Regions from separate parts of the Homo sapiens genome. Here all the other regions are linked to region 2. The links come from fine-mapping of genetic effects on gene expression. A gene starts in region 2. Each other region holds a variant in brackets. All regions are shown on one strand. Distances are between the middles of the regions.

Region 1 (2,773 bases), 400 kb before region 2:
CATGCCTGTAATCCCAGCGCTTTGGGAGGCTGAGGTGGGCAGATCACGAGGTCAGGAGATCCAGACCATCTTGTCTAACACGGTGAAACCCTGTCTCTACTAAAAATACAAAAAATTAGTCAGGTATGGTGGCACAAGCCTGTAGTCCCAGCTACTCAGGAGGCTCAGGCAGGAGAATGGCTTGAACCTGGGAGGCGGAGGTTGCAGTGAGCCGAGATCGTGCCACTGCACTCCAGCATGGGCAACAGAGCGAGACTCCATCTCAAAAAAAAAAGATATCTTTACTCAATGTATTTCTTTTCATTCCTGCAATTCTCTGTTGAGTATAGAAATTAGCCGTTAACTGTCACACAAGATTAAAACTTGTATTATAGAGGTTATTGATGACAATACCAAATATATAAATGTCAATTTGCAGTATTCATCTCTTTTAGCCTACCTGAACTTGACACACTGACCACTGATTTACCTTAGGATGCGTATTTTTCCAGGATGCTAAAATAGTAATCTCTTTGGTTCTTATACTGTTTTGGACAGTCCCTCTCACACACCTTCATGAGATTTGCTTCATTTTTCCAATTTCTTAATTTTGGAGTGCCCTAGGAGTCACTTCTTAGAACTCTTGTTTCTGTCTGTACCCACCTCCAAATTTGTCTTCTTCAGTCCTGTGGCTTTAAATATGATTGTATTACCTTTCTGAGAGTGCTTTAACAAATTACCACAAAAATGAGCAGCTTAAAGCAATAGAAATGTGTTTTCTTATAGTTCTGGAACCCTTTTTCATAAATTTGAAGGCTGAGGCGGGAGTTGGGAGGGCTCCACGCCATCTGCATACCCGAAAGGAGAATCCATTTCTTGTCTCTTCTAGCTTCTGCCAACTGTCTTCATTCCTCAACTTGTGGCCTTGGGCTACATGACTGCAACTCCCTGACTCTGTAGTCACATCGCCTAGTCCCATCATCTCTTTCTTTGTGTGTCTGTTTTCTTCTGTGTGTCTCTTAGAAGAACAATTGTCATTGAATTTTGGGATTACCTCAATAATTGTAATAATCCACTTGAGCTGCTACAGCAAAATGCCATAAACTAGGTGGCTTATAAACAACAGAAATGTATTTTTCACAATTCTGGAGACTGGGAAGTCCAAGATCAGGGTGCCAGAATGGTCAAGTTTTGATGAGGGCCTTCTTCTGGGTCAAAGACCAGAAACTTCTCAGTGTGTCCTCACATGGTAGAAGGGGCAAACCAGTTTCCTCTAGCCTCTTTGATAAAAG[C/T]ACTAATCCCATTTTGGATTAAATGGGTTCTGCCATCTAATCTAATAACTGCCCAAGGGACCCACCTCTTAATACCACTACCTTGTGGGTTAAGTTTTAACATATAAATTTTGAGGAGACACAAATATTCAGACCATGACAATAACCTATGGTGATCATCTCTTTATCTCAAGATTCTAAACTTAATTACATCTGCAAGGACCCTTTTTCCAAGTAAGGTAACATTCAGTTTCCAGGGATTTCATGTGAATATCTTCTGGGGGATCTTTTTTTGTCTGCCCCAGCGATCTATAAGCCAATAACTCCAACATGTAATTCTCTAATACACAGATCTCCTATGGCATTCCGATTCTGTTTTCATATATTTGTCTGACATCTCCCTTTGTGAAATTCACAGATAGCTCAAGAAAACAAAAAAAAGTACTACCCAGTTTCGTTAGTCAGAATTCAACAGGAGAAGAAGAAATAAAAATATATGAATTACAGATATATTGAAGGTACTGGCTCTCATGATTTTGGGGACTGGCTAGTTAATTTCCAAATATCAGAGAAAGCTGGAAAAGTAGGTTGGAATTCCAGAGCCTGAGCTGAAGTGGTTGTCCACAGATAGAATTTCTTTGAACTCAGGAAAGATTTAGTTCTGCTTTTTTAAGACCTTACAAATAATAGATTCAGGCTCACCCAGTTTATCTAGGATATTTTCCCTTCCTTAAAGTCAACTGATTGTGGACGTCAATCACATCACATCTAATTAGTGTTTACTTGAATAACTGGTGATAGTAGCCTAGTTCAGTCAACTTATCAAAGAAACTATCTTATCACCACTCAATTTGTTTATTACTAAGTCTACCCAAACTCATTGTTTTAGAGCTCTATTTTTTCCTCTCTGTTAGGCCAAATAAGCATGGTGTTATGCTTGACACTTGTCTTTCCCTCACATCCCACACCCAAATAATCAGCAAATCCAATGCATATTCAGAAATGTTCAATTTCTCAGTAACTCCATCAGTACCTCTTTAGTTCAGAATGACATGATTGCTCCCGTGAATTATTTCTGTGCCTTTTAAAGTGATCTACATACTCTGGCAAATTATACTGTACTCAGCAGCTACTGTGATTCCTTCTAGTGATATATATATATATATATATATATATAATATATATATATATATATTTTTTTTTTTTTTTTTTTTTTGCTTTTTTTTTCTTTTTGCTCAAAAACTCCCAAGAAGGTTCTATTTTGGTCAAAACAAGACCTCTGGCCAAAATGCTTGTTGCTCTTCCCCTTCCCACAAACTAAATACCTCCAAACCAACTAAATCTGGACCATATCCTGTTCATGCCTCTGTATTAATCTCTTACCTTGTACTTTTAAATTTTAGTATAAACAATTATTCACAGCATTTTATATAGGAATTGCCTGGTCTATATCTCCGAAATCTAGCATATTATGATATGAGCTGGGTCATTGACAGTTTTCATCCCAGTTACATCTTTAATGC
Region 2 (2,773 bases):
ACTCCCCTTTTTTCATAATAAGGAGACAGTAGGTTTTTATTTTAGTGGCATAAAAACAATTTCAGACTACTGCTTTTGCCCATAGTTACAGTGCTATCAATAGTTACTTGTTGGGGACATGCATTTATACTTGCAATATGCTGCATTAATTTAACAACACATAAAATATGGATTTTATTGCAGCAGAAACAATAAATGCTGCAACTGCTGACTACATGCATTTACTCTCCCTCTCTTTACCTCTCTCCCCCCAATACTTCTGACTCAGATATAAAATTGAAAATAAGAATTCTGCCTATTCTATTTCTGATGAATGTCAATCTATTGTATTTATGTAGATGCTTAGTGACCATTGACAGTTTCAAGGAATCTGTCTTCTGCCTGTCATTTCTGTTTATATTGAACGTACAATGAACTATGACTACGAATAAGTGCAGAGTGAATCCATTCATATGGAATGCAAAGTAATGTTAGATGATGTTAGAGTTCACAGTAACAATGTTATCTCTTGAACTGATTTTTAAAATAAAAATGAACAAGTCTGGGCATGACAAATTCACTTCATAACATATTTTTTAGCATTTGTTCCAAGTGAATGAATTCACAAACTCTAATATCATGACCCACTGTTGAGCATAATATATAATTTATCCAGCTTTACATTGCCTATATAGATATTCGAAGCAGTTGTTTCTAGAATTAAATATATAGAGTTGTATGCTTATTTAAGTATTAAAGATAATTATTTTGAAATAATTGCTAAACACAACTTAAAAACAAACATTTATCTCCTCCCTCTCCCCCCCCACCCCTCAAGTGGAGGAATATATAATACCTTAACGGAGTTAAAAGAAAGAGGTGAAGTCTTCCTACCTTTTTTATCAGCTTCTGGATAATGGAAGTTGGTTCCAGCCAAAATAACCCAGGAGAAATTGTCACTATGTCCCCTTTTTGTTTGTTTTCGGCTGTTATTTTCTATCACTGATTCTACTTCAATCTAACTCAAGCTCTTTCTCAGCATCACTTTTAACTCTGGACAGCAGGGAACCGAAGAAAACGGGGGCGAGCTCTCTCTGATTGGCTTTCATTCAGTGCTTCTGATTAAGGGGAAAGGAAAAAAAAAAAAAAGGAAAGGGGGGAAAAAAGCTCTTCCTCACACGGAGAGAAAGGTTCTGCTGATAGAGCTGCAGCACTCGCCATGGGAAGGTTAGAGACTGTGGAAGTGCTGGCTTCTGCGAGCACACAGCGATTTGCAAGTGAATGCGAGGGGAGGGCGCATCCGAGAGGAGGGCTTTGCTTGAAAGGCGTCCCCTCCCCCGCAGGGCAGAAAGACTCTCTGTTTCAAGGCTAAGGTAATCAGCCCAATCTAATCCGCCTGTGTCCGTAATACAATCTCAGGAACAGGACTGCTTCTTGCAATTTTTTTTAAAAAAAGATAGTTCTTCTGGAATATATATTCCTGCACCGTCCTTACACCAGACTACCGAAATCCAAGTATTATCAGAGCGCCAAGTCAAATTGCAACCAGATTTGATATGTTACCAGAGTGATTTTTCGTTGTGATTTTAAATGTTTATTTTTTGCTTTCAGGGAACTTTCTCGGCTTGATTTTCCAAATCCCTTCTCTTGTTGCTTATTGTCACAGGAGTGCATACCTCGCTCATCATTTTGGAATGTCCGCGAGCCAGTCTTCTCTGCCTAATCTTTGCATTTTAATACTTTATAGATAAAATATTTTATTAAAAATGTAAATATGTAATTAGTGTTATTAAAATATTTAGACTTTGAACTTGACACAGTCTCCTTTTTTTTCTTTTTAACGTTGTTTTTTCTCATAAATACGGGTTTCATACCCAAATGAGTGTGTGGACAGATGTAAATACATTTGGATTGTTCTATCTACTTAAACATCTAACTGTCTCGCTATTTATCAATCTCCACATCAAATTGCAATCAACCAAACCTTACCAAAGGATGTCAGTATAGCTCCACAAAGTAATTAACATCTTTGCATTTTTCCGGCTACAGGTAGATTCCTTTTAAAGTGCCATCCATAAATAAATTATATACACATATACATACATATATGCATATAAATACATATATGTCAATTATAGTTTTAAAGCTAGAGGAGAAATTACGAAGATCATTTTGGGCTGTTATTATTATTATTTCTTTAGCAGATAAAAATGCTCAGAATGTTAAATTGTCACAGGACTAACTGGAGGCGGGGTCAAAGCTGTAATACCACACTCCTACTTCCAGTTTAGTATTGTTTCCGGTTGCCATACTGCCTCCTCTGTACCTGTTTGATCATTCTAACAGTCAACAGGCCCCTTACATAATCAGCACAATGAAAAAGGAAGAAACTCAATCTGAGGGGCAAAAAAGAAGTGAGAGGGAGATTCAAAATTAGATTCCAAAAAGGTTTTAATGTATCACAGTGTTATTATATGATGAATTTTACCAATTAGTTTTATATTTGAAAACACCAAACATTTCCACTGAGCTGAACAGCTAAATGACATTTAGAGCAGAAATGGACTTTTGAAACTCTTAATTTTACAGACGATGGCATTAAGATCAGGAAAATTTTATGGCCCCTCTAAAGTTTGATAATAATAGAGCTAGAATTCTGAATTATCACCGTATCATTTGCCCATAGTTTTTGTTATGTTTTGTATGTTTTCTTCGACAGGGTGCCTTAATTTCAGAGTCAAGTGAAAATAGATATTCAGTTTTTTACCTCTGATACGTATATTTGTGTGTATTT
Region 3 (2,773 bases), 77 kb after region 2:
ACTTACTTTTTCTTTTGTAATCTCCAAAATTGTATTACATTAATCTAGTAATTTTTTCATGTTCTACCTTTTAATCTTTAATTTTGAAATTTCATTCATTCGTTCATATAGATGATTCTACTGCTTTGCCCAGACTACCTTTCTCTTTAATCATCATCTCAATCATTTTGTTCATATAATCGAACATAGTCACAATAGTTTTCTAAAGTCTTTGCCAATTCCAACATCTACATTATCTCAGTCAGTTTTTAAAAAATTAATTATCAATGAGAATATGCGGTGTTTGGTTTTCTGTTCTTGTGTTAGTTTGCTGAGAATGATGGTTTCCAGTGTCATCCATGTCCCTGCAAAGAACATGAACTCAACCTTTTTTATGGCTGCATAGTATTCCATGGTGTATATGTGTAACATTTTCTTCATCCAGTCTATTACTGATGAGCATTTGGGTTGGTTCCAAGTCTTTGCTATTGTGAACAGTGCCGCAATAAACATACTTGTGCATGTGTCTTGATAGTAGAATGATTTATAATCCTTTGGGTATATACCCAGTAATGGGATTGCTGGGTCAAATGATATTTCTAGTTCTAGATCCTTGAGGAATCACCACACTGTCTTCCACAATGGTTGAACTAATTTACACTCCCACCAACAGTGTAAAAGTGTTTCAATTTCTCCACATCATCTCCAGCATCTGTTGTTTCCTGACTTTTTAATGATCGCCATTCTAACTGGCGTGAGATAGGTATCCCATTGTGGTTTTGATTTGCATTTCTCTAATGACCAGTGATGATGAGCTTTTTTTCATATGTTTGTTGGCTGCATAAATGTCTTCTTTTGAGAAGTGTCTGTTTATATCTTTCTGCCACTTTTTGATGGGGTTGTTTTTTTCTTATAAATTTGTTTAAGTTTTGTAGATTCTGGATATCAGCGCTTTGTCAGATGGATAGATTGCACAAATTTTCTCCTATTCTGTGTTTGTGCTGCCTGTTCACTCTGATGATAGTTTCTTTTGCTGCACAGAAGCTCTTTAGTTTAATCAGATCCCATTATGTCTATTTTGGCTTTTGTAAATGAGGACACATGGACACAGGCAGGGGAACATCACACACCGGGGCCTGTCTGGGTGTAGGGGACTATGGGAGGGATAGCACTAGGAGAAATACCTAATGTAGATGACAGGTTGATGGGTGCAGCCAACCACCATGGCACGTGTCTACCTATGTAACAAACCTACCTGTTCTGCACATGTACCCCAGAACTTACAGTATAATTAAAAATAAATAAATAAATACTTAAAAAATAAAACATTAATTATCACTATTTTCTACTCATTCATATGTCTTATACATTTTATAACAATTATATCTATTACAGCCATTCTTGATGTCATTCTGGAAGGTCTCTGGATTGTTTTGACAAAGACTTAAATTACTGGTGAGTTATTTTGTCCTGCCAAGCTTGCTTTCATAATTACTTTAAAAATGCTCCTCCTGTTTTGCCCTTATCCTGAGGATCTGGCCTTTACTGTACAGAGAGTTGTGTTTATTTCTAAGGGATGGTTTTACTGAGGTGTGAGTGAATTTCTTCTTGGCCAGGATTCACATTTCCCCAGCACCCTTTGCCCTTTGGTATCTCTACTGAGCTTGCCACCCCATTATATTCCCTCTGTGTTAGCCTAAGATTTCACCCCATAAAACCACATATT[A/T]GTGTTAGGCAAAAATTATAGAAATGTTCATGTAAACACAGTGTCCACCTCTGTCAATCTTCAGCCTCTCTTTCCTCTTCAGCGTTTGCCTTAAAAATTTCTACCATTTCGTTGTTCTGAGCTCTGAGCTGTGCCTCTTCACATCAGCAAGAACACTATACTCTGCTTTGCCCCTTCTTCCCTATGACTACTCTGGAAAGTGCTCCTAAGCAGAAATATGGAGGAGACATGAACTTCAACTTGAATATTTCTTTACTGTCAAAGTTCACATTCCTCTTATCAATTATCTAAAAAACACTTTCTTTAATTATTCTGAGCAAGGCTAGCATCAATTACTCCATCTTTGCTAGAAGTGGAATTTGAGCTTCAATTAGATTTTGTTAATATCAAGTTTAAGTATTTGTTTCACCTCACACTAATAATGGAAATAGGAGTACAACTGTAAATGGTCCTTCAGATTAAGTGGATTCCTTGTGTGTGTTTTAATTTTAAATATTTGGCCTTAAAAATCTGACAATGCTATAAGGTATCCAAAGACATTTCCTGGCCATTTGCTTTACTGTTAGATTTTTCCAAATTTAAAGTATATAGCTGGGCATGGTGGCTCATGTCTGTGATCCCAGCACATTAGGAAGCTGAGGCAGGAGGATGGCTTGAGGCCAGGTGTTCCAGACTAGCCTTGGCAGCATAGTGAGACTCCATGCCTATAAAAACTATAAATGAAATAACAACAAGTATAAATAAAACAGATGTGTCATATTTTACATACAATACAAATTAAACATATTATGTCTTTCATTGTAATATCCCTATTTTAATCTACTTCTCTCCATCTCTACTAACACTACCGTAGTTCTCGATGGCTTTACATATGAATTTTCCTTGATTGCAATTTTCTTTTCACCCAAGTTGCCTTTTCATCTAAGCTAGTTTGTCCGTAAGGTATTCCTCACATTATAGTTGTAGTGACTTTTAAAAGTGTATAAGTATGTCGTGCCCCCATTAGAAAACATCCAGTAATGACCTATTATTTGTAAGATAACACTCTAAGGCCTAGTCTGGCACTAG

Direction of the effects. Positions count from the first base shown, and alleles are read on the strand shown. Sizes are in standard deviations (SD) of each study's normalised expression. Not every link is listed here.
For the expression in atrial appendage of the gene that starts at base 1,258 in region 2, allele A in region 3 goes with a lower level than allele T (small effect, 0.27 SD a copy in GTEx).

Evidence for each region. PIP is the estimated chance that this variant, and not a neighbour inherited with it, causes the effect. A credible set is the group of variants that fine-mapping cannot tell apart.
Region 1: its variant is the best candidate, but not a certain one, in a credible set for the expression of CDH10 in lung (TOPMed, PIP 0.55).
Region 3: its variant is the best candidate, but not a certain one, in a credible set for the expression of CDH10 in atrial appendage (GTEx, PIP 0.57).

What each region holds. Positions count from the first base shown.
Region 1 is chr5:24,241,300-24,244,072 of GRCh38, forward strand. No RefSeq gene overlaps it. Among named protein-coding and RNA genes, the nearest start is that of LINC02899, 290 kb to the left of the region's middle. The variant C/T (reference allele first, on the strand shown) is at 1,272.
Region 2 is chr5:24,643,721-24,646,493 of GRCh38, forward strand. It overlaps CDH10 (cadherin 10), which reads right to left and starts at 1,258. Exons shown (of 12, transcript NM_006727.5): 1 at 874-1,258. It overlaps LOC124901174 (a long non-coding RNA gene), which reads left to right and starts at 989. Exons shown (of 2, transcript XR_007059125.1): 1 at 989-1,352; 2 at 1,591-1,794. RefSeq lists an enhancer at 955-1,550.
Region 3 is chr5:24,721,213-24,723,985 of GRCh38, forward strand. No RefSeq gene overlaps it. Among named protein-coding and RNA genes, the nearest start is that of CDH10, 78 kb to the left of the region's middle. The variant A/T (reference allele first, on the strand shown) is at 1,706.